4 linked regions of the Homo sapiens genome follow. The protein of the gene in region 4 interacts with the protein of the main gene of each other region in a pairwise test. Each region holds a gene or a part of one and is shown on either strand. Other genes may lie near its edges. The genes, in order: LONRF1, GPSM1, CFAP206 and TASOR2.

Region 1 (7,013 bases), on a different chromosome or scaffold from region 4:
GGAAAAAATAAGCTAATGCAGTGAAAGTCAGAAGACTTGGGTTCTATTCCTGCAAAAGTAGAATGAAGTTGCTAAGTGGGCAAAATCCTCATGTGCAATCTATGCAACTTGAAAAAAAGAGAGATTACATCTTTCAGAGCCTTTTCCTGTTAAACATAATATCCTCGATCCAAGAACCAGAATCTCTGTTAACTAAAATATTATTGGTCACAGAATGTTAAGCTAGACCTCAATTATCAAAAGTGCTCACTGTTCTTCCATGGACCAGGACCTGGATTCTTGTGAAACCCCTAATTCAAGGTCAGATCACTAAATCAGCAGTACTGTCCATAAGGTTCAGCCTCAGTGACCAAAAAAACTTCCTTGGATATGTATACTAAACATGTGCTATAAGGCAGGATGAACCCTAGACCAACGTTTAGGAGAAGCGGAAGATACAGCACTGCCTCTCTACCAGTTAACAGTGTGACGGTGTGCAAGTCTTCACTGCCTGGCATCTGCTTCCTCGCTTTAAAAATCACACCATGGTCAGTTACTAGGTGGTCTGTACAACTGAGTCCAGTTTCTCTTCTCTTTATTCACCCAGAGAAGCAGAGTCATGTGTATCAGAATTCTGTATTCCAAATACTTTTTTTTTGTTCTGAGCCTACCTTTCTATTTTATACCTGCCTACTCCTCACGAAGGCACTGAAAGAATACAAAAATCTCCGGGGTTTGTGCTTCGAACTCTAAAGATACTAAACAACACAAGATCTTGACATTAGTTCAATATGACTAAGCACTTGGGACAAAAGATGACCCGAAAGATGATCCTTTCAGTTACACAGTCTATAAATTTACCTGTAATACCTAAAGTCAGTTGCTATTCTAGATGTCTGTTTTCTTGGGGATTATTCCCCTATCATTTCATGCCAATGGATAGACACTAAGATCTTGAAATACGCGTAACACAAGGTTTATCAACAGTGGCACTTGGGGCCTGATAATTCTTTGTTGTGGGAATCCTGCTGTGCCTAGTAGGATGTCTGAGCAGCACCCCAGCCTCTCCCACTAGATGTCGGTACCAGCACCACCCCCACAAGAGGTGGCAACCAAAAATCTCTCCAGATATTGTTCTAAATAATGCCCCCTGAGAGAGGGGAGATAAAATCCCCCTGGTAGAGAACTACTGATTTATATAGAACAACTCTTCCTTTTACGTAAGAGAAGCTTGAAACTGCCCCCTTTCAGCGCCTAAAACCACCTTAAGAAGAAAGTGCTAACCTAGGTTAGGAGGCCGAGGCTGCTTCTTGGAGACTAAGAAATGCACTCAAGACCTATAAGGCCTTTCCCCACAGCCTGATCCTAAGTGGAAAGGCCAGGAGAAGCGTGGCAGAGAACTATGGATCAGGCAGCCCCTCTCATCTTTACCATAAGCTAGGTGCACTGCAAAGTACATAGGAAATAAGCAGGATCTGAAACAGGCCAGCTGAAACTTTCAAGAGGAACCAGTTCAGGCATTTCCAGGTAGCAAGGGACCACCCTGGGCAGCTCCGCCCCAAGCCCCAAGCCCGGCGGCCTGCAGGGCCTCCCGGGGCCGGGCGCCCGCGCGGAGCTCCCGCCACGCCCACCGGACGTCACCCGTTACACAACGCCCCCCGCCCCCAGCTTATGCAATTCTGCCCTCCCGCGGTTCCCAATTGTCCCGGTGACTTTTGTGGGTGAGGAAGGGAGACGCCGCCTGCCCGGCCTAGTTGCCCTCGCGGGGGATTCTCTCCCCGCCCCGGCAGTCGTTTCCCCGCGGCGGGCCCGGCCCGAGAGCCAATTCCCGGAAAGCGCGCGGCAGGAAGCGAGCGGCCGCTCGGGATAGCCCAGCTACCACCCATCCCGCGCCGGGGCGGCCTCGGTCCAGGTCACCCACTCCGCGCCGGGAGCGCGCGCCCGACAGCCAGGCCGCGGCCGAGGGAACCCCGCGCCGAGCGCCCCTCCCCGCGCCGCGTCACAGTCGGCTCCCAGGGCGATCCCCATTATGACCGAAGCACCCCGGGGCGCCGCCCCCTCCCACACCCCCCAGCACCCCGAGACCCGACACGCCAGCGGCCCAGCGGCCCCGGGGAAGCAGAGGAGACTCTCGGGGCGCAGACAAGCTCCGGGTCCCCGGCCCTCGGGGCCAGGAGGGTGCGGTCGGCCCGGCCCCGCCGCATCCCCGCGCGGTCACCTGCTCGCAGCGCCTCGCAGGCGGCGGCCAGGGCCTCCCGGTAGCGCCCCTGGTGCAGTAGCTCCCCGAGCCTGCCGGCCGCCCGGGCCCGCTCGCGCTGGCCCGGAAACCACTTCTCGGCCAGGTGGTTGAGGACGACGCTGGTTCTGAAGTCTGAAGCGGCGATGGCGGCGGCCAGAGGCGGCGGCCGCGGGGCGGTCCCTTCAGCATCAGTGGCACTGGCGGTGGCGGGCGGCAGCCGGTCCCGGCAGAGGCGGCAGCGGGCGCGGAGTTCCCTCCGCAGGCAGCGGCGGCAGTAGCTGTGGCCACAGGGCACGGTCACCGGCTCGCTCAGGAAGCCCCGGCAGCCCAGGCATCTGAGGAGCCCGCCGGCGCCGCCGTCAGCGCCTGCAACCGGGGCCGCGCTCCAGCCCAGCCCGTGGCGGAGCCGGTAGTTGAACACCAGGCAGTCCACCAGGGCGCCCAGGCACTCGGGCCTGGCCGGGGCCCCGCGGCGCAGCGCCGCCGCGAACGCCTCCAGCGCGCCCTTCAGGTGGCCGCCCAGCGCCAGCAGCTCCCCGCGGCGGAGCAGCAGCTCCCAGCGCTCCGACTCCGCGGCCGCGCGCTCCAGCCGATGGCCGCTGCCGCCGCCCACTTCCCAGAACCGGCCTCGGCCCTGCGGCGCTGGGGCCATCTCCCGACTCCCTCCTGGGGAGGTCCTCGCCACCGCCGGAGAGGACATGGCCCGCGGAGGGCTGCGCCGCCGCCGCCCGCCGCCACGGTCCCGGAGCCTCCCGGGCGCGCGGCTCCGCACGCGGCCCGCGAGCAGGGGGGCGTGGCGCGCGGACACGGCGGGGCTGCGCGCGCCCGGGAAGCCCCGAGGGCGGGGCCTGGCGAGGGCGGGGCCGGGCTCGGCGACGGCGCCCGGGACTCCCCCACGCCGCCCGCGGCCGCGCTCCCGAGGAGCCAAGCGCTGGGCCCCGCCCCTTCCGAGCCCCCTCCGGGTGGGGGACGCAGGTCGGATGATTCCTCCGTCGGAGATCTAATTGGCTTCTCCGGAAAGGAGGGCTCGGCTCGTGACGGAACAAAGCCGGAAGGACCCCGGAGCTTCAGTCCCCGCTTGCCTGTCTGCCAACGCCGCCACCTGCGGTGGCCCTCGCCCCTGCCGGGGGTTGGGGGACGCTCCCCTGCCGCGCGGGACTCCGGGTCACCACCCCTCCCCCGACGCCCCCGCCCAGGCCGGACCTGCCCCAACTCCTGGCGGGCGGGGGTCTCCCCGCGTGGCCTCGCGCTTGTGCGGGTCTGCATTTTCATAGCTCTACGCCCATGTTCCAGGTGGGCGCGCCCAAGCAGGGGGCCTGGGAGCGCACCTTCGGCAGATGACTGGGACTCTTCGGTTCTAGAGGACTCAACTTTAAATATGAACAAAAAACCCACGTTCCTGGGGCGACTCCCTCCAGAGGGCAAGGAGTTTTTCCTGGTGCCAGGTGACTGCTTGCCCGTCTTGCTTAAAACTCATCGTGGGCCCACCTCGAGGGAGAAAGCCCACAGCTTCCTCAGGTGTCTCCACACCTCAAGCACTGCCTTACAGCTGGTTAAGGTCTATATTTGGCAGTTTTAAAAGAAAACACCAAGAAACATGTTTCACATGGCGGTCACCGTATTACTACAACCCAAGCTGGCTCTGCAGTTTTGCTGACAGAAGAAAATGATCGGGTTGATATATAATGGGTGCTATTTCCCTTAAACTTCACAGCAGCAAGTTTAAAGCTCTCAGCTGAAAATACAGATTTGATGATAGGGTATTAGATCGCTAATGTTGGAAGTCACTTAGGACTTTTAGTCCTTTTTCAAATGATTGGAAACACAGGGAAAGTTATTTGTCAAAAATCACACAGCTAATACAGATTTTAAGATCACGTCTATTCCACTACTACTACGTTAGACTAATATGTAATATTTAATAAAATATGTAATATTTCATAGAAATATATGAGATTTTCAAAGTAAAAGAAGTTGCTAATTGGAAAGTTCACCTGAGCATGCTATGTATGAAATTGGTAAACGTTTAATATTTCTCTTTATAAGGAACAGGCAATTAAGGCTAAAAAATGTTTTGAGTTCATGTGTTTTCACTACACAATCAACAAGTCGTGTAACGTCAGAAAAGACAGAGTTATATTACCCTAAAGGGAATGAATAAAAAAGAGGTGCCTGAGAAAAAGCCAAGCCTCCTGTTCCAACAGGATGCAGACAGAAACAAGTTCATTTATCACTCACATTGCACCTGAAGCAAATTGCAGCTAGATCCAAGGAGCACCTCCTAAGCATTTGGCATGGGAAGCATTGGGATTAAGTCATGAGCATAACCTTAAATCCAATCCTAACCCCTAAATTACTACCTTAACAAGCAGAACAGTGACTTTCAGCTGATGTCCACATACTCCCTTGAGACTTGAAATCACAAACAAATATCCATGTGTACACGCACATTCATTTTTGTAACGCATCCTTGTTCTTAATGGCATGTTGCAAAATTTACAACAGTAAATATGTAATCAATGTGTTCATGTTTATTACAAGGAGCATAGTAAATTAATAAACACTCATAAACTTCTTTTCAAATATAAAGTCAGGTTCTATTATGGGATTTCTGCCAAAAGTACAATATGTGGTTCAGAAAATAATGTGAAGTATTATTTGTCCTTTGGAGTTCCTTTTCCTAATAAATATGACAACCACATCTGATTCTGATGTGAAATAAAATGGCACAATTATGATAATGTGCGGGAGAAAAAAATGGGACCGTAGGAGGAATCTTACCGTGTTCTCCTTGGCATTTGTGAATGGTTATAATTCATGTTTGCTGGTTTATGCATTTACATAACTTGTTCTCATTTATGTAACTTATTTATGTAAGAGGCTGTACTGCCGCTGTGGCCTTTGTGTGCTGCATAACTTCCCTTTGAATCAGGAAGTCTAGGCAAAGCAGTCACTGGCACTGTCACAGGTCACCCTTCCATCATTCTCTGCCATCCAAAAGTTGCACAATAATGTGACTGCTTGTTTAAATTCAAAGGCGAGAAAAATTAGTGTCCTTCTTCGTTCATTTCCTAAAATTTAGACAGGTCTCTGAGTCACCCAGCAGGCTGTGATGGAGAAGAGGGAATCCTGCTAAGCTGCCCCTGGCTAGGAGAAGTATAATGGAGTGAAGAGCTCTCCTTTTCCTTCCGCATTACTTGCTCGTGTCATTCTTTGCTAACAAAGTAGTAAAATCATGAGATTTGTATTCTGTTTCGGTTTTTGAGTGTTGTCTTCTAAAATAGATCAGTTATGTAAGAGAGTCAGAAGAAAAGCGTATCTGTTTCCTAATTTGGAAAATGCTTATCACCATCATTGCCTGCTTATCCCTGCCTCCCACTGCCACACCATAAGACTTTTCCTGATATAGTTTGGTAAACTCCTATTTAAGAGTAACATAACACAGTGCTTTTCTTATATACAACTCAGCTGAAGATGTGTATTTGAACCTCTTTTTTTTTTTTTTTTTTTTTTTTTTTTGCTGTGGGTGAATTTACCATTTGTTTCTTTACATTCTTATTAAAAAAGAAACTGAATTTGTCAGTCCAAGCAAAATATGTCCCATTCCTGATTCATTTCAGTTGATAATGTTCTATTCAAAGAGAGTAAACTATAACGTTTTATATAAACAGTACCTAGCCAATAGATTTTTTTTTTTTGACACAATCTAACTTTGTCACCCAGGCTGCAGTGCATAGTGAGTATATAGCTCACTGCAGCCTTGACCTCCTGGGCTCAAGCAATCTCCCACCTCAGCCTCTCCGAGTAGCTGGGACTACAGACGCATGCCTCTCTGCTCAGCAATTTTTTTTTTTTTTAACTTGTTGTAGAGGCGGGCCCCATTATGTTGCCCAGGCTGGTCTCAAACTCCGGGCCTCAAGCAATTCCCCTGCCTCAACCTCCTAATGGGCTGGGATTAGAGGCATAAACCACCACGCCTGGTCCCCAATAGCATTTTTGTACAGAATACACAGATGGAGGGGTCTCTAGAGACCACCTTTTCATACCCCTCTCTCTCTCTCTCTCTCTCTCTCTCTCTCTCTCTCTATATATATATATATATATATATATATATATATATATAAGAAAATTGGGATCTGAGAAGCTGCTAGTTTCATAGAAGTCATACCAGCGAGGGAATCCAGACACCTGGTGCTGACTCTATTTATGCCTCTATGCCAGGGAAGAAGTCACCTGGGTTCCCTAGGCCTCATTTGCTATCTGTAGAAAGAGGGAACTGCAACTACCTCTAAGGTGCCTTCTGCCTCTGGAGCCAAGCCCCAGGGCTTGGTTTGAACACAGTAAGAGGAGGCAGAGCATCTCCCAGACTGAGGAACACAGCAATGTGATACCTGCTGAAAATGTAACAGCAGATGAGGGCTGAGAATAGAAGAGAAGGGTATCAAGAACACATTTTGTTGGTACATACTCATCCCTGTTTAGAGAGGGGGAACCAGTTTCTGAGACCTGAACACCTGCAGTCACTGTACAGGGATCCCCTATTGCACTCACACCTCCTTGCCCCTACTGTAAAACTGTGGGAAGCTGAAAGAAAGCCGGGGGTGGGGGGGCCGAGGGAGAGCTGATTATATAACTTGGGCATTTGTGCGAAAGTTTATATAAGATGCTAAAAATACCATATATGATTGCTATAATAGCGTTCCAAATGAAAAGCCCTAATGAGGACAACCTGAGTAGGTTAAATAGAGCTGATACGAAGTGTAAGTCTAAAGCCAATTGCCTGCAAGGACTACCA
Region 2 (7,024 bases), on a different chromosome or scaffold from region 4:
GGCAGGGCAGAACGGGAAGGGCTTGGGGGAGAGGATGCGGGAGTCTGACAGCACCAGGTCGGGGCCGACATGCCGAAGGCCCCGTCCGGCCTGCGGCAGGGGCAGAAGGGAGGAAGCTGAGGGCCATGGGGGCCAGCCCGGGATGGAAGCACGCCCTCCCACCACGGGCAGCTTGGCCTGAGCCTGTCGCCCTGGGTCGGGGAGGCCGTGGGGCTGCATGCCCAGTGCCTGTCCTCGGCAATGGCCTCGGGAGGACGTGGCTGTGACTGTGAGACCGGCGTCCAGGAGTGGGGGCAGGGTGGGCCTGGCGGTGGGCACAGGGCCTTAGCTCGCACCAGGCTGGCACTGCTGCTGGGGCTCGGGCGGGCCGCCTGCCCCCTGCTCCGGGCCCCCGGCGAGGTCCACCCGCTGCTCGTCCATGCGCTTAGCCTGCACCCTCTGAATGAGGCTGAAGAAGTCCTCGTCCGGCATGGTAGGGCCCCGGGGCAGTACGTCAGGTGGCGGGCAGCGCTGGTCATCGATCCTGGAGGACTGGGTGGACACAGTGCAGTTGGCGGCCTCACCCCCCCAGCCCCAGTGGTCCGGGGCTGGTCAGCAGCGGTGGTTCCAGAGGCCAGCGTGCACTGTTCACGGGCTTCCCCCTGTCCACCCAGGAAATTGGTTCTGGGGCCTGCCTCGCTCTGGGGTCTTGTGCTGGGAGCCCGGGCCCTGAGCGCAGTCTTCTGGTGGCCCCGCCACCAACCCGCAGGAGCCCAGGGCAGGCCCGCCCAGGAAAAGCAGGTCCAGCGATTCCCACTGGGCATGGGTGTGCCAGGCCCAGGAGACAGTGGCTAGGGCGGCGTTGGATGCCTGCTCCCCACATCTGCTGATCCCCAGGGACGGGCATGCGTGGCCGTCCCTCTGCCCAGCCCTGGAAACCAGCACAGCCTGGGACTGACCCTGGCAGGCCTGAGGTCTCAGCTTCCAGAGCCCGAAGTGTGGCGCCCCCCAGGGCTTCCCCTTGTGTCAGGTGGCTGACCCCGTGGGCCTCGCCTGCTCCAGTGTGCAGGCCAGGGGGCCAAGGGGTTGTCTGGGCTTCTCTGAAGCGCCTGGAGCAGGAGGGACGGGAGCTGGCGCAGGCATGCGTGTGGATGGGGGACTCTGGGCCTCTTGGGTGGGGCTGGTTTGGAGGTGGCTGGTCGGACGCCTGGCCCCGGGCCGAGGTTTCCTCTCTGCTGTGGGGAGGACGGCAGACCTGGAAACGTGCTGGCTTGGTTCGTGGTGGGCCAAGCGGCCTCCACCCCCAGCCTGTTCCCAAGTCTACGGACCCTGAACCCCTTCCCAGCAATGGCTGCACCCCACAGGGATGGCGAGACCCCCAGAGTTTGAGGTCCTAGTTGGGATAGCAGTTGGCTCAGCAGTCTCCACTCCGGCCACCCTACCTGGCTCACCCCCACACAGATGAGGAGGTCATTCCTGGCGTGGCTGCCAGGCTGGAGCCCCGGCCCTGGCTCTGCCCTCTGGGGCTGGACCCTCCGCCCATGCCGTCCACTGTGTGGTCCCTGGATGGTCCCTGTTTTTGTCCCACCAGCCAGCTGGCAGCCCTGGATCCCCCTGCCCTCCCCACTCTGGGGGTGCTATCTGGCCCGTGTTTTCCCTGCCGGGTGTGGAGGGCTGGTGGGGAATCCCTGAGGCCATGAGCTCCAGGACCTGTGACCCCCCAGCCCCCACCCCGAGTTCCTGCATGGCAGGGGGGTGGCACAGCCTGGGAGTGTCCTGGGGTTGCCAGGGGGGGTCTCTGGTGTCTCCAGCAGCCCGGGGTTCCCAGGAGTAGGGCTTCAGGCTCAGACACCCCTGGTCATGTGGTGACACTGGCTGAGTCCCCCAGGAGTCCCTCAAACATGACCGGAGATGGCAGAACCAGCGCCCACCTCACCCCTCAGGACACAAGTTGCCTCCACACACGTGGATGGCAAAGGGGCCGCGAGCCACGCCCGCCCAGGGCCGCAGCCCACCTGGTACTTGATGAGCATGTTGAAGAAGTCGTCCCCCGGCTCCTGGGGCTCGCCGTGGCCTCGGAGGTGCCCTGCATTGCTGTGGGTGATTCGCAGCCCCGGCAGGCTGCCCACGCTGGCCCGCTGGTCGTCCAGCCGGCGGCTCTGGGAGCTGGCGATGAGGTCGAAGAATTCCTCGGTCTGGGGCGAGGCCGTCATCGAGGGCTGGGCTGCGGGGGGCCAGAGGGTGAGACCTGGGACCCAGTGCGGGGTCAAGCCCGAGGCTCGGGCTGCGGCCACAGTGAGCTCTGACCTCTGAGCCCAGCCCAGCCCACTGTGCTGCTGGGGCCATGGCTCCTGGGGGAGTCTCCGCTGACCGGCCTAGGCAGCTCTCAGCTGCTCCCCCTGCTGTGGCTCCCACGCCCACCTCAGGGGCTTCCAGGGGGTGACAGGAGGAGACAGGAGGAGAACGCCAGTCCCCCACGCCCTGCCCCCTCCCTGAGACTGCCCCTGCAGCCTGAGTGTGTCCCGGAGGGCGGGCTGATGACACGCTTCCCGGGATGCTGCTCTGTGGGGGCTGCGGAGGGCGCCCTCAGTGACAGGGTGCTCTGCAGCTGGCCTGCTGGTCTGCCCCCGAAAACTCCTCACTGGAAGCAGGACGGGAGCCCTGGTCCTGGCCCCTGCAGACAAGCCCAAGGGAGGGCCCGGCTGAGGGGGGCACTCACCGATCCTGTCCTCCAGGGTGGGGGCGGCCGTGGCCTCGGCAGCCCCGGCCTGGCCATCGTCCAGGGGACAACGCTGGTCGTCCATGCGGCTGCTCTGGAACTTGGTCAACAGGTCAAAGAAGCACTCCTCGTCCGAAGACGGGGCCCTCGGGATGCTCTGGGGAGGGAGTGGGGTCACCGCAGCCAAAGCTAGCCCCGCAGACCCCCAGACGAGACCGGGGGCTGCTTGCCCAGGCCACACACACTTCTGAGACCCTGGCCAAGATCGGGACTCTAACCTGCCCCCTGTCGGCTACCCCTCCCCCAGAACGTGTCACCCACCCTCGGCACCCGGCTACCCCTCCCCCAGGACGTGTCACCCACCCTCGGCACCCGGCTACCCCTCCCCCAGGACGTGTCACCCACCCTCGGCACCCGGCTACCCCTCCCCCAGGACGTGTCACCCACCCTCGGCACCCGGCTACCCCTCCCCCAGGACGTGTCACCCACCCTCGGCACCCGGCTACCCCTCCCCCAGGACGTGTCACCCACCCTCGGCACCCGGCTACCCCTCCCCCAGGACGTGTCACCCACCCTCGGCACCCGGCTACCCCTCCCCCAGGACGTGTCACCCACCCTCGGCACCCGGCTACCCCTCCCCCAGGACGTGTCACCCACCCTCGGCACCCGGCTACCCCTCCCCCAGGACGTGTCACCCACCCTCAGCACCCGGCTACCCCTACCCCAGGACGTGTCACCACCCTCGGCACCCGGCTACCCCTCTCCCAGGATGTGTCATCCACCCTCGGCACCCGGCTACCCCTCCCCCAGGACGTGTCACTCACCCTCGGCACCCGCCGACTGCCCCGGACTTCTCCCCTCTCATGGGTGCTACCCCAGTCCAGGCCTCTGTCCGTCACCTGCCCTGGGCCAGCCTCCCCAGCCTTGGCCTGGAACACTTCCCAGACATCCCGGGAAGCCTCCCGTGCCTCCTGTCCCTGTGCCCACCACACCCTGTGTCAGCCCTGCCATGAGCTCCCTGTGTCCATGCCCTACACAGCCCTCACCGGTGTCTGCTGTGTGAATGAACTCGAAGGAATGAACCCCGCCCTGGGCCTCAGTCCACACACCCAAACAAGGGAGGCTGGAGGGCGTGGTCTCCTGTGGCCCCCCAAGGGGCCCAGCTGAAGCAGGTCCACCCCGTGACCCAGCCTCACAGGGCCTGGTCCGGGCCCCAGGGCTGAAGGGTGTTTGTGATGGTTCCAAGCCCCGTCCACCTCCCGACCGGCGCTGGCAGCCCCTGCCCGGCCCCAGCCTGTCCATCTCACGGCTGGTGGCCTCTTCCAGGTCTGCAAATGCTGGGCTCACAGCTGAACGAGTTAACAAGAGACGCAATGTTGGTGGAGATGGCACCTCCCGGGTCCCCGATGCTGCCTGGAATTCCCAATACCTGACCCCCACAGCCCAGGAGACGGACAGCTGTCTGACAGACAACTGGAATTCCCGACACCTGACCCCCACAGCCCAGGACTAGGGCTCCCGTCCTGCTTCCAGTTTTCTGCTGGACTCGGCCCAGGGCACAGGAGAGTGGGGCCTAGAGACATGTGTGACCTACCCAAGGTCATGCTGGAGCAAAAAAGAGCTGGGATTCAGACCCTTGAGCTGAGCCGAGGGCCCTGTGGACAGCCCTGTTTTAGGAGAGACCCCACCTGGCTCTGGCCCCTGGAGTCAGTCCCCAGCTGTCACGGAAGCCTGAGGTACCTCCTGTCCCTGAGGCAGACCTGAGGAGGGAGAGTTCTAGCACCCCCTTCTCCCCGCAGGGCTCTCCTCCTGCAGCCTGGCTCAGGCCTAAGGCAACACCCCCACTCCCCCGGATTCCCCAGCCAGGAGGGAGGGGAGAATTGGCCCAGTCTGTGGGGAGGGCCACATCCACTTGGGCCAGGGCTCTGGGAGCTGCAGGTCCAGGCAGAGGGTGGCACTGGGGTTGCCAGCCTGAGTGCCAGTTGGGGCCACACAGGTACCTCCCCAGGAGGATGTGGCCTCCTGGTCTAAAAGGAACTGGCTCCTGGGCTATGATGACCTAGGGCACAGCCGCGGGGGGCCTCTGCCTCTGGCCCAATCTGGACTCCCCCAGGTGACCCGGGGCCCAGGTGGACTGAGCAAGGTCCCTCCTGGGAAAGGCAGGACCCGTCAGGGGCCATGTCCCAGGCCCCATGGCAGAGCCCCTCTCAGGGTCCTATGTCGGGCAGCCCTCCCCTTCCCTGAGGCTGGGGCCAGCTGTTGAGGGGCTGATGCCTCCCTCACATGGGGGCAGGGGCCCACGACTGCAGGTGCAAAACCGTGGCTCAGTGCCTGGTACGGGGAAAGGCTCTGGATAGTTTGGGGCTCCTGGAGCCCCTCAGAAGCAGGACCCTGGGCCCCAAGGCCACCTTCCCCTGCATTTATGTCCCAGTAGAACATATCCAGTGGGACTCGGGGTTCCGCCTCCCTGCTCTAACCTCTCCCTTGCCCCAAGCCCTGGCTCCCTCCTTCCCGGAGGCCTCAGAGTCCCTCCTGCAGTCTGACTCTAGTCTCTCTTGCTTTGGCACAAGCCCAGTTTCTCCTGCGGAGGAGGGGAATGCACCCGGCCCAAGACCACCCCACCCGGCTTCACAGAGGCCCGTGTGCTCCCTCAGCCTCCACCTGTTAGGACCCCAGGGACCCCAGACTCACGCGGATCACAGGCTGTCTCCACAGCAGCAGGGAGCCACGCTGGGTGCTTGGCCACACAGAGCGCAGGCAGGACACAAGGTGCCCAGGGCCACCACCGCCCTGCCCAAAGTGCCAAGTGCTGCCTCAATGCTGGGATGCCTGAGGCTTAAATAGGACCCTGGGCAAGGGCTCGGCCCTCCTAGCGCCCGCCCCTGCTCACTTGAGTGCGTGCACACACACAGGCTCACACACACGCACGTGGGCTCGCACTCACACACAGGCGCACTCCGTAAACACTCCCCCAGCAAGTGCAGCAGTGAACCTCCCCCTCCCCGTGCCTGTGGGCGGGCACACTGGAGGGCTGTGTGGGCAGACAGCCTGCCGAAGAGCCCTTTTCCCGCTGACACCTGGGCCCCTGGGCCTCCCTCCAGAGCTGGGCCAGGTGGGGAAAGCCACCTCTTTATTCAGCCTGACTACGGAGGCAGGCGCAGAGGACCTGGGCGGGTTGCTGTCCTCATCTGGACTCCTCTGTCCGGGACGGCCCTTCCTGTCCCACAGCCCTCGGTGGCTCCCCAGTGCCCTGGCTCAAGGGCCTCCCGGCCAGCTCAACTCAAGCCTCTGGTTGCTGCCTCTCTGTCTCATTCCTGGTTGGACCTACACTGTCTCCAGCCTCTGAGGCCAACCCTGCCCTGTCCCCTACCCTCCACCCCAGAATGAGTTCTCTGGACCCCCAGACCACACCCAGCCACACCGCCTCAGATCCCAAAGCCCCGAATGTGCTGGCTGCAAGGCCCCTGCACTGTCTGGGCACAGGGTGGGGAGGGGCAGGGGCTGGTTGGTCACCAACAGCAACGGCGCAGCATCGGTGTCACCAACAGCAACGGCGCAGCATCGGTGTCACCAACAGCAACGGCGCAGCATCGGTGTCACCAACAGCAACGGCGCAGCATCGGTGTCACCAACAGCAACGGCGCAGCATCGGTGTCACCAACAGCAACGGCGCAGCATTGGTGTCACCAACAGCAACGGCGCAGCATTGGTGTCACCAACAGCAACGGCGCAGCATTGGTGTCACCAACAGCAACGGCGCAGTATTGGTGTCACCAACAGCAACGGCGCAGTATTGGTATCAGCTGCACTTTGCAGATGAGGACCCCAACTGAGAGCTGAAAGCCCTTCCCTGAGGACCCCAGCAGAGGGGGAAGGGGGCCCACCCGGCCACTGACGCCCCAGGGATGTATCCCCCACCCACCCTCGCTGCAGTCCCCATACAGGCTGCCACCAGGGTGCAGACGGTCCTTACTCGGAGGTACCCAAGGTTCTGACCTCGGTAAGGCCAGTGGGGTTCAGGTCAGCAGAAAGCCAAGAGGCCCTGCCACGTCCTCACAGACCCTGGGAACCCCGTTTGTCTGGGGCCAGGATCTTGGCTGTCCCAGGCGTCCTGCCCCGCGGTGGTTGCAGGGGCCAGGGGAGCAGGGCCCGCAGCAGGTGGGGGCTCCCTGGGGCCCTGGCCAAGGCCTCCAGAGTGCTGGGCCAGGCAGCTGGACACTTGGAACTGTGTCCCCTTGCCCTGCTGGCCCAGACCCAGGGCAGTTTGTTGGGGTGACGTGAAGCCTGGAAGCCCTCAGAGGCTGTGCTTTCTAGAAAGCCATCAGC
Region 3 (7,689 bases), on a different chromosome or scaffold from region 4:
AAAATTATTATTTTCTGGATAGAAGGTGATAGACCCAATTGGCACACATATTTTGCCCTTTGTCTTTCCCCCTTCTTTCTGCCTAGAGGCAGGGTAGCTATCTTTTGACCACCAGATGACCATATTGCAAGGATGGTGTGCCCCAGGAAGCCAGGAAGAATGGTCTATGTCTCTCCAGATTTTGTGTTATGAGAAAAATATCTCGTGTATACTACTATTTTGTGGGCTTTTGTTTCATGCAGCTGAAGGCAATAATGACTAATACAAATATTGTATTTACAACTGAGAATAAGTAATTGCAAATTTGAGGACTGTTGGGTAATCACCTTAACAAGATTCTGCACATCACTTTTCATGAGGGTTCTATCCATGTTAAAGCCATTACTTGGATCCAGGACAACAGCTTTCACCTAGAAAAAAGTAGGAACGAGTCCATTAACTAGGAAAGAATCCATTAAGCAATTTTATTTCATATTATTAGCTTAATATGTTTCCATTTTTTAAACAACTACCTCTTGATTACGTTGGGGTTGGTTTTCCAACTATTCTTCTTATTACTGAACTCATCAGTACCCTTGTTAGAGGTTGAAAAAAGGAAGCAACAAACATCAAACTTGAATATGGTGCTAGAAAAGTTATATGGGGAAATAAGTTGAAAGCAATGGCTAGGTTTTCAATTGGGAAACTATGGCATATTTTATTGTATTTTTATTGTGTATTGTTAACCAAAAGCAAGAACAGAGAAACCACAGCAATGAGTAATTTTTAACAACGGCAAACAAAAATACACGTCAAAAAATTCCCACACAGGAGAACATTATTGATGTTTCCAAAACTCATCAAGGTCTTCTAAATGTCTCTATAAATCTAGAACTCACATGCTCTATAAACTTTTTAAAAATGTTTTCACAAATTTGTCCAATTATCTCGTTATGCTTCAACTGAAAAACATTTATGAAAGCCTCACAGAATTTAAAGGGGAAAATGGACACCACATCTTAAAAAACCTCTTAATAAAACAGTAATCACAAAAATATTTCTTCTTACCATAAAAGCAATCAGAGTTTCAGAAACAATCTCTCCATGGGCTGCACATTCTTGTCCTATTTCTCGTATAATACTCCTTATAACACTTTCGGCCTGAGTTGGAGGCATTCTGGCTAAATAAAACAACAATTTTTTTTAAAAAAACCGTGGTTTTATGCAAATTTATTTTTTTCCTCTTTTGATTTCTGCAATATTGTATTTGTAAACAGTCATAATATCATCTATTAGCTTATTAGCATTTTTATTAGTATCTAGGCCTCTCCTGTTTTTCATTATTTTTAAAAATGAAGGACTTTATTGAAGACAGACAACGATTGGGATTTCAAATAATTGAAACATTTGATAAATAACATTTTCAATTATTTAAATTATGGTCACTAAACATATATTCCTATCATGATATTCTTAATTAAAAAAAAAAAAAAAGGCTAAGCAGGCTGGGCGCGATGGCTCACGCCTGTAATCCCAGCACTTTGGGAGGCCAAGGCAGGCAGATCACCTGAGGTCGGGAGTTCGAGACCAGCCTGACCAACTCAGAGAAACCCCGTCTCTACTAAAAATACAAAATTAGCCGGGAGTGGTGGCACACGCCTGTAATCCCAGCTACTTGGGAGGCTGAGGCAGGAGAATCGTTTGAACCCGGGAGGCGGAGGTTGCGGTGCCATTGCACTCCAGCCTGGGCAACAAGAGCGAAACTGTGTCTCAGGAAAAAAAAAAAAAGGCTAAGCAGTATTTGTAGGGGAGGGAGGTAAAATTAATGAGAAACCCAAGAGTACAGCTTTAAAAGGAGAAATGCTTATTCCACCACATTCATTAAATGACCCTTCAGAACTGTACTAGAATCTTGGAAAACAATTCTTGCTCAGATCATTAAAATGATCTTTTCCGCACATCTAAAATAGAGTTCAGACTCTCGATAAAAAAAAGCATTTACTATAAGGAAAAAGTGGTAGGTTTTGATCGAGTTTTCTGATTTTCCTGAATATCAGTAACTAAGCACAATGGAAGTTGGCATGTAGAGTATAACAAAGGCAATATCAGGTAGATAAAGCCAACTCCTCAGCATTATTAGCTTTCCAATGGATGAGTACGAAGCACTAGGCATTTTGTCCAGTGAAACCAGATTGCCTGGATTCCATGGTGACCCGACCACTGTCCAGCTGTGAGACCTTGGGCACTTGCTTCACTTCTTTCCAGAGGTGTGAGGACTAAATTAGTCCTGTTTTTAGTGGTTACAACAGTGCGCGGCTTAAGGGAATCGCTTAAAACAGCTTATAATCAGTACTCCAAGATCACAGGCAGCGCATGCGCAAGTGCCAGTCAGTGGGAGAGTCCGTCGCGCTCCGGATCTGTGTGCGCGCTCCGGATCTGTGTGCGCGCTCCGGATCTGTGTGCGCGCTCCGGATCTGTGTGCGCGCTCCGGATCTGTGTGCGCGCTCCGGATCTGTGTGCGCGCTCCGGATCTGTGTGCGCGCTCCGGATCTGTGTGCGCATGCGCGCCGCTGCCGGGTCGCTAGGGACGCGGCTCAGCACCTTCCCTGCACCCACCCTCCAATTACTAAGTCTCCCGAGGTCCGGCTTCTGGGGTAGCCAGTGGAGCGAAACAGAAGCGGGAGGCCTCAGGCACCCGCGCAAAGGCTAGAGGGCAGCCCTGCAGCCCTGGGGTGGCGCCTCCGGCAGGAATGGACCGCTGTTCCAGCTCTGCGGCGGCGCAGCCTAAAGGATCGAGACTGAGAGCTAAGTCTCGACGAGGCAGGACGCGGTCCTCCAGCCGCCCGAGCTCCGCCAGCCGCCCCAAGCTCGCCGCCTGGCGGGGTACGCCTCCGGGTCAAGGGCGCGGAGCCCCGAGTAGGCTGACCTGGATCGGAATCGACAGCAGGAGCCGTGTCTGTCTGCTTCTGTCCTGGGGCCCTCACCGCGACGGTCGGAGCAGTTGGGCGCTCGCAGCCACCGCCGCGTAACCATGGAGATGGAAGGCTCCGGACCAGAGGGGGCGGGGCCAGGTGGGGGTGGGGCGGGGTCCCACTTTGAGGGTCTTTCCCCCAAAAGATGGGCTGGAAAAACTTTAAAAACAAAGGAATTTCAGGCAGAGACATCTTAACCTCCGTGGTTAAGACTGTGAAACACAAGTTCTCGTAAATAAGGATATTAACTTGCTAGCGTGGGAATGATGAGGCGGCTTTGAAAGCGGGGTGGGGGAGAGGGAGGAGCCAGTTGGAGAGGCTGGGAAAACGGAAGGGCTGTATCCTGGGCAAATAGAGTTCTTGTAAAAGTATCTAGTTTTAAAAAACAAAAGTAAAAAGTATCGAGGTTTTATTTCATGTCCCGTTGTTCAAAGGAAGTCTGTAACAGAACGCTCCAAGATGCCCGAAGAGAAAACTGCTCATTCAAGAAGCACATGATAAGAACACATTAGTGTCCGAGTCAAAATAATGAGGTTTTATCCCTTAACGATAATATCGTTAGGCCCACCTTCAGACGTGAAAGTGTGAAAAAGGATTAAATACTCATTAGAAGGAGAGCATCAAACAACAAGGTTTTATTTTTAAACAGTAATTTTTCTCAAACTGCAAACAAATATGCAGAATATGCTTTGCTTAAGGACATTCCCTGATTACTAGGAAATGAATCAACACAAAAACTCAAGAATATACATCATAATATAACACAATTTTATTTCCGCCTTCTAGAAAATGTTCCCGGAATGTGGAAGAAGCTTGTGTAAAAATAGATGTTCAGAGTAACAAGATTTATAATAGCACAGCCTTAGAAATCTAAACACGTTATTTAAGTAAAATATCAGGCAGGTATTTAAAATTATGTTAACAAAAACCTTGTGTTTGTCTTATATTTGTTAAAAGCCAAATGCGAAATTTTTATATAATATGACTTAAACTATATTGACATACATATAATGCACAAAAAGTGTAGGTCAGTTTTTCAAAATCACAGCAAGCAATTAGATCTAAGGATGGAATTATAGGTAAATTACTTTTATTTCTTTATACTTTTCTGTTTTTTCTAGATTTTTCCATAATGAGTATATATTGTCTTATGATCTATAAAACAAAATTTAAAAATACAAGGGAGATGAGACTGGCTATTTGTAGAGAATGAACCCAATTTAGATATACAAATATACTGTAAGTATACAAGGTAAAGCAACCAAAGGACGGTGAGATAGCAAAATTTTAACAGTGGTTGTAACTTTGTAATGGCTTATGGCTGATTTGTCTTCTTTATACTTTAAGATAGCTACCAAAATGTCTTCCATGAGCATATATTATATATTAGAATATTAAATATCTTTTAAGATGGTAAGAATAATACCATCATATTAAGTATAGTTTTAAACTAATGGGCAAATCCTGGCACAAATACTCCCTGAAGTATGTTTGATACTGTTAATTCCTACTTAATGTCAATGTTTTCTTCTCTTTCTGTTACTAATTTAACCCTGTGTTGGGAATGACAGTGTTCTCTTTTAAAAAAAAAAATCTCTCAACCTCTTTCTCAGTGAGAGTGGCCTGTGACATGGTCTAGCCAATGAGATGTAAGTGTAATCACTGGATGAGGTGTCAGGGAAAGCACTTCCATTTTATGTCTATTGCCTTTCCTTTTCTTTCTACTTGAAATGAGAATATGCTGGCTGAAGCTCCAGCAGCCTTGCTGTGAACATAAACATGAGGGTCACATCTTAAGGATGGTGGAACAAAAATGAAAAAGGAACCTGAGTTCCTGGTAACGTCATGGAACAGCCCTATCAGCTTCTTGACTGGCTATCTCCAGACTTTGCATGAGAGAAGATAAACTCCTATTTTATTAAGCTACTATTATTTGGGTTTTTTGCTACATTCAGCCAAACTGAATCCCTGACTGCTACAATGGGTATGACTTTGGAAGTATTATTTAGCGTTTTGTGCTACATTGAATTATTCTCCCTAATCCTTCATGCCTCTTAGCATCCACACCTTTGCCATGGACTTTGGTGGAGTATACTTCCCCAATCCTTGATTTTGAATTTAGCCATGTGACTTGCTTTGGCCAATAGGTTGTGGTGAAGCAACGGTGTGCCAAATCAGATCCAAGATCTTAAAGAGACCCCATATTTCTGCTTTCTCTCTTGTGCCTGTATCATTGCCATGAGAAGTACATACAAAGCAAGCTCTTTGGTCCCAGAATCACATGCATATGGCACAGAATTGCCTGAACCGATCTTTTAGTAAGATGCAGAGATGCCCAACTAGGGCCCAGCCTAGATCAGCCAAACTCCAGTCAACCTGTAGATGTGTGATAATGAATGAGTATTGTTTTAAACCGCTGAGTTTTTGAGTGGCTTATTATACAGTATAAGTGTGGAAAGAGTTCATTTATAAACCTTTCAGTGATTTAAATTTCTCATTTATAAAACAAAACAATGGTATCTATCTCGTGGAGTTGTGAGAGTAAAATGAGATAGCCGTCATGAAGCACTTAGCACAGCATCTGACATAGATAAAAGGATTCATAAATTTTAGAAACTAGTATTTTATGACCTTTATCATGGTTATTATTGACAACATCAACTATGACAATATATTTTATACTCCCATGGTTTATTGGACTTCTAGTCTTTGTAGAACTATTTGTTCCTAGTTTTAACACGGCAGCAATGGCATTTAATTAAAAAACACGGAGGAACCAGAGTGCATCCAGAGAATAAGAAAAATTTTGTCAGAATAAGATAGAGAGAACTGGATATATTTACCTTGAGAAAAAGAAGGCATGAGAACTCTTCTCAGTTTTGTTAAAAGAGAAACCAAGTTTTATGTTGTTTCAAAACACCAGATTACAAATCTACATAAAACAGTCTTAAAATAGAATTGTGATGGAAGTCATCCTAGAAGAAGTGAAACCCATTTTATCAAATGTTTTTTATCTAAAAGCTAAAAGATTGCCTTTAAGAATATTGTAGAATTAATTTCTTCTGATTAAGTATCTTTAATATGTCACAAACTGTTCAACATTTAAAGAGAGAATTATATATTTTTCCTTTTCCTCAGGCTTTAAGAAGTTTTAAGCTCAAATGAGTTGAGCTTCTTAGCATGTTTAATAATTTTTTATTGAGCCGGGCACGGTGGCTCACGCCTGTAATCCCAGCACTTCGGGAGGCCAAGGTGGGTGGATCGCCTGAGGTCAGGAGTTTGAGACCAACCTGGCCAACATAGTTAAACGCCGTCTCCACTAAAAATACAAAAAATTAGCTGGGCACGGTGGCGGGCGCCTGTAATCCCAGCTGCTCGGGAGGCTGAGGCAGGAGAATTGCTTGAAGCTGGGAGGCGGAGGTTACAGTGAGCCGAGAGATCGCTCCATTGCACTCCAGCTTGGGCAACAAGAGCGAAACTCCGTCTCAAAAACAAACAACAACAACAAAAAATAATAATAATTTTTTATTGAATACTGGACGTTGTGAATTGCATCCTTGTTCAGTGTCTGAATTGTCCCCCTTTAGGAAGGGTTGTGCTGTTTTTTTCAGCCAGTTATTTGTGGATGAGTTTGATTCATTTGTGGACTGTTTTTAAGCTTTATTAGGGTAGGTCTAGAGTAGTCTTCATTCCAGAAATAATTTGACCTTACTACTAATTAATAACTGCTCAGAGGTCTTCAATGAATTCCTTGGTTTTCACTGAGGACTCTTCACTCTGGCTGGTCAGAGCTCAAATGTCTTCTCATCCTCTGTGAGCTCTAAGAATTATTTAGCTTATACTCCCTGGTCATTCTGTGCTCGACTGTGTGGATTGTCAATCCATACATGAACAGCCAAGTACTTAGCAAAGTCTCAGATTTATGAATTCTATTTATTTATTTGTATAGCTTCATCCCTTCCAAAACTTTGCCCTTCAATTTCCACATCTGTGAACTCTGATCTCTGTCTCCTCAACTCAATAAAGTCCCTAGGCAGTGGGTTTACCTTTCTATGCCCAGGATCTGGAAACTGCCTCCAGGCAGAAATTTGGGGGCAATAATAGCAAACAGTTGTTTTATATATTTTGCCCAGTTTTCTAGTTGTTTGTGGTAGGAAGTTAAGTCCAGTCCTTGTTATTCCATCATGGTCAGAAGTGGAACCTTGGGTAACCTTGGAGAGAGGCTAATAGGAAATAACCATCTGGGAGGGTAGAAGAGTGGGTGGGCTTACTAGAAACTTTCAGTAACTTTCAGTAATTACTGAGAAGTAATGAATGTGCATCTGAGTGTCAGGATCATGAATTTAAAGTGAAAGCATTTTGCCATGTTAAGTGATTTTCTTTGGAAATTATTCAGCAGCTCAGGAGCAAGCATGATCTTGAAGAATGGTTGGCTTGACCAGGAACTAGCGTATTGCCAGACTAGCATTATCATGCTAGACCATGCATTTAAACCAATGTAGAGCAACAAAAGCAATTTACTAGTTTTTTTGTTTGTTTGTTTGTTGTGAGACAGAGTCTCACTCTGTCACCCAGGCTAGCATGCAGTGGCACAATCTCAGCTCACTGCAACCTCCACCTCCTAGGTTCAAGTGATTCTCTTGCCTCAGCCTCCTGAGTAGCTGGGACTAAAGGCATGTGCCACCATGCCCAGCTAATTTTTGTATTTTTTGTAGAGACAGGGTTTCACCATGTTGGC
Region 4 (7,018 bases):
CTTTGGGATCTTCAGCAGTCTTTTGAGACGGAGTCTCACTCTGTCACCCAGGCTGCCGTAGAGTGACACAACCTTGGCTCACTGCAACCTGTCTCCCAGGTTCAAGTGATTCTCTTGTCTCGGCCTCCCGAGTAGCTGGGACTACCTGCACCTGCCACCACACCTGGCTAATTTTTGTATTTTTAGTAGAGATGGTGTTTCACCATGTTGGCCAGGCTGGTCCCTAACTCCTGACCTCAAGTGATCCACCTGCCTTGGCCTCCCAAAGTGCTGGGATTACAGGCGTGGGCCACCGTACCTGGCCCCCTCAATGGTTCTTAAAAAGTGTAGAGGGGTCCTGGGAATAAAGTTTCTAAATTGCTAAACTATAGGCACGTGCTTTAACATGAGTGAATCTCAGAAACAATGTTTAACAAAAGTAACTCATAGAATACAGAATGACTTTATTTAAATAAAGTTCAAAAACAGGTAAGAGTAAACAATGCTAGTTAAGGATATCTATATAGGTGATAAAACTGTTTAAAAAGGCAAGGGAATAATTAACACAAAATTAATAATGGCCAGGGTAACGGGGGGCAGGGAACGCATTCCTCCTGGGGTAGAAACACACAAAAGGTTTCCAAACTAACTAAAGTTTCTAAAGCTTTTATTAATTTTTGTTATGAAATATACCATTAACATGTACTGACAAAAAGCATATTTATTACACAGATACGCTTTGTCAGTACATATTAATGACATATTTCACAATAAAAAATTTTTAAAGAAAAGGGAGATGTACATATTCTCTTAGAAGGAAAAACTCAAATAAATGTCTCTTCTCAGATTATATATTCAACACCATCACAAACAATATCCCAAGATTTTCTATAGGACTTAAAAAGATAGTTTTAATTTCTTCTGGAAGAAAAAATGCAAAAGAAAAACCCAAAGCTCTTTTTCAAAAGAAAGTACCAAAATATATTATAAAACTATGATAATTAAAATGCTACAGTAATAGTTACATGGGCGAAAGAAAAGAGAGCTCAGACTCAATAAAAACATCAGCAAATGATATGACCTGCCTAAAAAGATTTAACTTTTGTATTCACCAAGGAAGATAAAAATTAAAACAGAATGTTACTTTCAATTACTAGGTGGCTAAGATATTTTAAAAATACCATTATCATCCAGTGCTGGCTAGCATGGAGATAAAAACACATCTTTTGAGCGAGTGAACATAAAAAGGTACAATCATTTCAGGGCAATTTAGCAACATGGTTATCCAGCACTCTCATAAGGAGTCAATTCTACAGAAATACTATCATGACCACCTGAAGCACTGTTTATAACAGCAAGAGATAATCACTGCAGTATTGTCAGTTATAGGGATATCTTGAAAATAACTTGAATGTCTACCAACAGAAAAATGAAATTCACTTGATAAATACATGCCATATTGATCTATTTTTACTGAATAGATAGTATACTGTATTTAACAAACACCATGTCTCAGTCAAGTTCTTAGGCACTTCACCGATTTTAACCCATTTTAACAACTATGTTTGGACCACAGGAGATGCTTATAATCTCCCTTTAAAAAAATTAGTTACATTTGGGCAAATGTTCTGTATACACAAAACTTCAAATATACCGTCTTGGTCTTCCTTAACATAATTGTGGACCTTTTGTCACCCTTTTTCTGGCCTGGCTTAGTTATTTATTGATGTACAGTACAGGACATACCGCATACAGTCACCCATTCCTATAAGGCAGTTTTTCGACAGAAGGGTATTCTTGCACCGTTAGGGGACACTGCTTTGCTATAAACCTCCTAGGCAGGATTACCGCCAGGCTCACCCCTAGTTTTATTCAGGGAACACTGTAGACTCTAGGATCGCGAATGCCATTCCAATAATACCATACACTTGTACGCCACATATTTAAGTTTTGGATACACTTTCATAAACTTTTCTATTCTAATTGTACCTTACAGGGAGAATAAGGAAGAGTAAGCGTGGTTTGTTTAAAGTTACAGATTTCAAATAGACAAGAAGCGACTAAGAGAAACTTGAGAATTCCCAAAGTAATCTTCCTCAAAATTTCAGTCATCAACCCAGTTCTCCCACGAAACGCTGCTTGGCGCCGCCTTCAGACAAACTTCTGTGTTGCTCGCACCAAGTTATCCCAACGCGGCTTGCGCTTGCTGCTGAAATGACCCTCCCTTCGGAGAGACCTGTTTTACCCTAAAAAGAAAAGGTGGCGCATTGCCATGAAGTCTCGAGTAGCAGCAGGCTTCACGCAGAACCCGCAGGAAATGATTTCCCAGCCGGTGCAAACCCGAAGACGGAAACTTCAGCCAAGAACTTATCAGCATATCCCTGAGGACGCAGCTGTCCCCTGACAGGCGACGCAAACGAAACGCCTCAGAAAGGGGCAAGATGACACGGTTAGGATCTCCCTGCCGGCGACACCGAGCGCGGCCACAGGTTGTAGCGCAGGACAGAAGGTTGAGTCATCTAGAAGGCGCCGACCCCTCCCACCCCCTCACCCGGAGCGCGGCAAAAGGCAAGGAGAACGCGTCGACCCTCGCAGCCAAGCCCCGGCAGCTGCCCGAGCGCTCGGCCTCGGGGACCCGCCGTCCTCCTCGCAGGGTTCCCGGGCGCCCAGGCCGAGGAGGGACTTACCCGTCCTTGGCGTGGCCGCCGCCCCCGAGGACCTGAGATCCCGGCTCGGCCTCCTTCCCATGCTTCTCCCGGCCGTGCTCTGCGTCCTCCCGGGCCCTCGCGACACCGGCGCACGTGGGAAGCACCAGTCGCCGGCTCCGCGCTCCCGCGGGGACCCCCCTCAGGGGCACGCCGTCCGCCCCAGCCCCGGGGTCCTCGCCGCGGGCGCTGACAGGGACGCCGCGGCCGCCCGCGCTCTGTCTCCCGTCAGGGTCACGGGCAAGAGGCAACCCCGGGACGCCCGGCAGCCTGCGAGAACATGCCGACTTTCTCTCTGACCGGCGCTAGCAACCGGAAGCAAAACCTCGCGGCCAAAGGAAAAGAAAAGGGGAGGGGGGGGCAAAAAAAGAAAGTGAAAACTGAAGTGAGGCGTCTCCCTCAGAGATGGGAACCAATCGCCGGGAAGAAACCAAGGCGCAGGCGCGGACCGAGGTCAGCGTCCACGCGGCGCTCGCGTCTCCCCTCTGCGCAGGCGTAAGGCCACAGCTCGCTCCTGATTAGGCGGCCGATCCCAACGAGCGCGTGGTGTCTCGCGTTGCCGACCCTTGACAGGAGGCGGAAGATGCCCTTGGGAAGAGGCGGGAGACGCTCTCTCGGCTGACCTACAGTGCTGTGGCTGTGGCCCACGTGGTCGCCTTCGGGCGCCTTCTCCCTTCTCAGCGTTTCATTCCCCAGGTGCTGCTGCAAGAACAGTTTATTTGTCTGGCCCGAATGCGACATTTTGGAAATTTTGCCCTTGTTTTAATCCATATAGTAGGTGTGGCTGTTACCCCCTAGGAAAGCATCTCTAGAAATTTATAACACATGCACAGAGAGCTAAGGTGACCATCAATAAATTCAGGTTTACCCTTGCCCATGATAAATAGTCATGCAAACATCATTTAACTGTAGGGACACCTTATGAGAGAGATGCCTCATTAGGCAATTTGGTCCTTGAGTGAACATCACAGAAACCTAGAAGCATAACCTACTACATACTTACACCATAAGCCATAGCCCATTACTCCTGGCTACAAACCCATGCTATATGTTATTGTACTGAATACTGTGGACAATTATAACACAATGGTAAGTATTTGTATAAGCATATCTAGACATAGAAAAGGTACAATAAAAATACAGTATGAAAAATAATGGTACACCTGTGTAAGGCATTCTCACGAATGGACCTTGCAGTACTGGGAGTTGCTCTGGGTGAGTCTGTGAGTGAGCAATGAGAATGTGAAGGTCTGGGACATTACTGTACACTCTTGTAGACTTTATAAACACTGTACACCTAAGCTACACTGAATTTATTTTTTTAAATTTTTTCATAATTAACCTTAGCTTACTGTAACTTTTTAACTTTTTAAAACTTTTAAAAAACTTTTTAAGACTCTTTTGTAATAACACTTAGCTTAAAACAAACACATTGTACACAAATATTTTCTTTATATCCTTAATCTGTAAGTTTTTTTCTATTTAAAAATTTTTTTAATTTACTTTTTAAACTTTTTTGTTAAAAACTAAGACACAAACACACATTAACCTGGGCCTACACAGGGTCAGGATCATCAACATCATTGTCTTCACCTCCATTTTGTCCCACTGGGGGGCTGGGATTACGGTGGAGCCACTGCGCCTGGCCATGTGTGCTGTACTTTTATATGACTGGCAGTGCAGTAGATTCATTTACACCAGCATCACCACAAACATATGAGTAATGTGTTGCTGTACGAAATTAAGATGGCTACGACATCACTAGGCAATAGAACTCTTCAGCTCTATTATAATCATATAAGATCACTGTTGGATATGTGGTCTGTTGTTAACTGAAACATTAAGTGACATATGACTGTACCAATGAGAGAGATTAAGTGCTAATGAACATGTATCATGAGTCAAGCACTGTGCTGGTAATACCAAGAGATTCAGTCATTGTGTTTACTGTTTACTGTAACCAGGTGCTGTAATAGACACTGGTTTTACAATCATGAACAAGCTAGATAAGGACCCTGCCTATAATGGAATTTATTCCAGAGGTGAGTGACAAACACAGGTAAATCACCACGACAAGAAAATAGAATCTCAGATAACAATACATGCTGTGAAAACTCACTGGAAATGCTAGTGGATGGGACTGGGGGCTGGAGGCCAAGGGCAGAAGTAGTGGAGCTACAAGATCTTACTGAAATGGGCACATCTGAGGTCAAACCCTAAAGATCAAAACTGATAGAACCAAAGCTTGGAATACGTGGAGGAAGAGCTTTCCAGGCAGAAGGGAAAGCAAGTGCAAAGGACTTGAGAAGTGAAATGAAACCTATTCAAGAACAGAAGAAGGCTGACTGTGGAAGTAGAGAGTGAAGTACAACAACATTTTAATAGTGCACAAAACCGGAATGTACAACTCCATGATTTATCACAAGGCAAATATTCATGAAACCAACACCCCCATCAAGAAATAGAACATTGCCAGTACCCCATCCCTCTTCCCTAGCCTAAGCACTATTCTGACTTCCATGGTACTCTCTTCTTTGCTTTTAAAAGTAAGTTTGCCAACTAAATATGCACCCTGAAACTTTATCATTTAGTTTGCTTGTGGTTTGAACTGTATATAAAGTGAATAATTTTGTGCCTGCTTGTGAGACTCACTGTGTTTTTGGGTGTACTTGTTCTTTCGTTTTCATTGCTGTATATGTAGGCGTGAATGTAACACATTTGCTTTACCCATTGTATTATTGATGGACATTTGGGCTGTGTCCAGTTCTTGGCTATTATAAATAATACTTTTGTGATCATTCTCATTTACATCTCTTGGTGTACATGGGCACTCATTTCTGTTGGATGAAAACCTAGGATTGGGATTTTGGAATGCTAGACATGATAATTTAGATTTTTGTTTCTGCAAATATTTATGCCCTTATTCCCCACGGTTGGCCAAGTTTCCTTCTCTACTTCATTGACGTTGGGCTTGGTCTAAGAGAGGTCTTTTGGCTGATAGAATATCAGCAGACATGACACAGCAGGATTCTTCAGTGTGCTCGTGCTGTTTGAGTTGGCTCCTGTGCTCAGGTGATTCATATGTGGAGAAAATATCTCGCGTAGCTGTTGTCTCTTCAGCCTGAGTCTCCAGAACAAACCTATGTGGAACAGATGTGACACCAACCCACAGTCCAACACACTTTGGATTAACAGAGCCTTAGACATCCTGAAGATCAAGGATTCTGAAAGTTAATGCTGTTATCAAAAGCTAACCGAGTTTGGGGTGATTTATTATAGGGCATTATTGTGGCAATAACAAGGGCATATGTTCAACTTTAGCAGATCATTTCAAACTTTTTGCAAGCTGGTTTTACTAAGTTATACAGTTCCACAAAGATAATTCTAGTTCGTCTACATCCCTGCCAATACTTTTGAATTGTAGCCACTCTGAAGGGTGTGTCATGGTTTGAATTTGCATAGTATACAATGTTGTTCTTTTTCAAGTATGTTTGGCTATTCTAAGTCTTTTTTTTTTTTTTTTGAGACGGAACGTCACTCTTGTTGCCCAGCCTAGAGTGCAGTGGTGCAATCTTGGCTCACTACAACCTCCGCCCCCCACCCCCAGCCCCTGTTCAAGCAATTCTCCTGCCTCAACCTCCCTAGTAACTGGGATAACAGGTGTCTGCCACCACGCCTGGCTAATTTTTTATATTTTTAGTAGAGATGGGGTTTCGCCATTTTGGCCAGGCTGGTCTCAAACTCCTGACCTCAGGTGATCCACCCGCCTCGGCCTCCCAAACTGCTGCGATTACAGGCATGAGTCACTGCACCCGGCCCATCTATTCTAAGTCTTTTAAGTTTCTGTATACATTTTAGAACCAGCTTATTTTCTACCTCAAAAACAACCTGTTGGGATTTTGGTTGGGATTGTGCTGAATGTACATATCAATCTGGGAGAGAATTAACATCTTACTAATTGTCAAATTCTACTTATTCAGGTCTTTAAAAATTTCCTTCAGCAATATTTATAGTTTTCAGTGTACAGCTCTTGCACATATTTTGTCATATTTATCTCTTTGTTTTTGATGTTATTCTTAATAGTACTAAAAATTTTTGCAATAATTTGTTGCTAGTATATAGAAATAAAATTGATTTTTCCATATTAACTTTATATCTTGTAGCTTGCCGAAATCACTTATTATATCCAGTAGCTATTTGTTTGCACATGTGTGCATTCTTTATGCTTTTTTAGGACATTTTCTGCAAATAAAAATAGTTTTACTTCATTGTTTCTAATTCGTATTTCTTTTCTCCTTATTGCATCAAGGCCATTCCATTAATGTAATGTTCAA

What was found.
Region 1: the proteins of TASOR2 (region 4) and LONRF1 interact in binary tests that used the Homo sapiens proteins (3 or more experiments, as listed by UniProt).
Region 2: the proteins of TASOR2 (region 4) and GPSM1 interact in binary tests that used the Homo sapiens proteins (3 or more experiments, as listed by UniProt).
Region 3: the proteins of TASOR2 (region 4) and CFAP206 interact in binary tests that used the Homo sapiens proteins (3 or more experiments, as listed by UniProt).

What each region holds. Positions count from the first base shown.
Region 1 is NC_000008.11:12,752,503-12,759,515, forward strand, and holds the start of LONRF1 (LON peptidase N-terminal domain and RING finger protein 1), read right to left. Parts: upstream 3,025-7,013; 5' UTR 2,919-3,024; coding exon 2,198-2,918; intron 1,947-2,197; exon of another isoform or gene 1,439-1,946; coding exon of another isoform or gene 1,411-1,438; intron 1-1,410.
Region 2 is NC_000009.12:136,351,521-136,358,544, reverse strand, and holds part of GPSM1 (G-protein-signaling modulator 1), read right to left. Parts: intron 5,510-7,024; exon of another isoform or gene 5,390-5,509; intron 3,764-5,389; exon of another isoform or gene 3,523-3,763; intron 2,856-3,522; coding exon 2,699-2,855; intron 2,204-2,698; coding exon 1,995-2,203; intron 532-1,994; coding exon 325-531; 3' UTR 1-324. UniProt on the Homo sapiens protein: Guanine nucleotide dissociation inhibitor (GDI) which functions as a receptor-independent activator of heterotrimeric G-protein signaling.
Region 3 is NC_000006.12:87,403,306-87,410,994, reverse strand, and holds the start of CFAP206 (cilia- and flagella-associated protein 206), read right to left. Parts: upstream 3,024-7,689; 5' UTR 2,906-3,023; intron 1,161-2,905; 5' UTR 1,156-1,160; coding exon 1,048-1,155; intron 411-1,047; coding exon 327-410; intron 1-326. UniProt on the Homo sapiens protein: Essential for sperm motility and is involved in the regulation of the beating frequency of motile cilia on the epithelial cells of the respiratory tract. Required for the establishment of radial spokes in sperm flagella.
Region 4 is NC_000010.11:5,680,824-5,687,841, reverse strand, and holds the start of TASOR2 (protein TASOR 2), read right to left. Parts: upstream 3,005-7,018; 5' UTR 2,667-3,004; intron 2,226-2,666; exon of another isoform or gene 427-2,225; intron 1-426.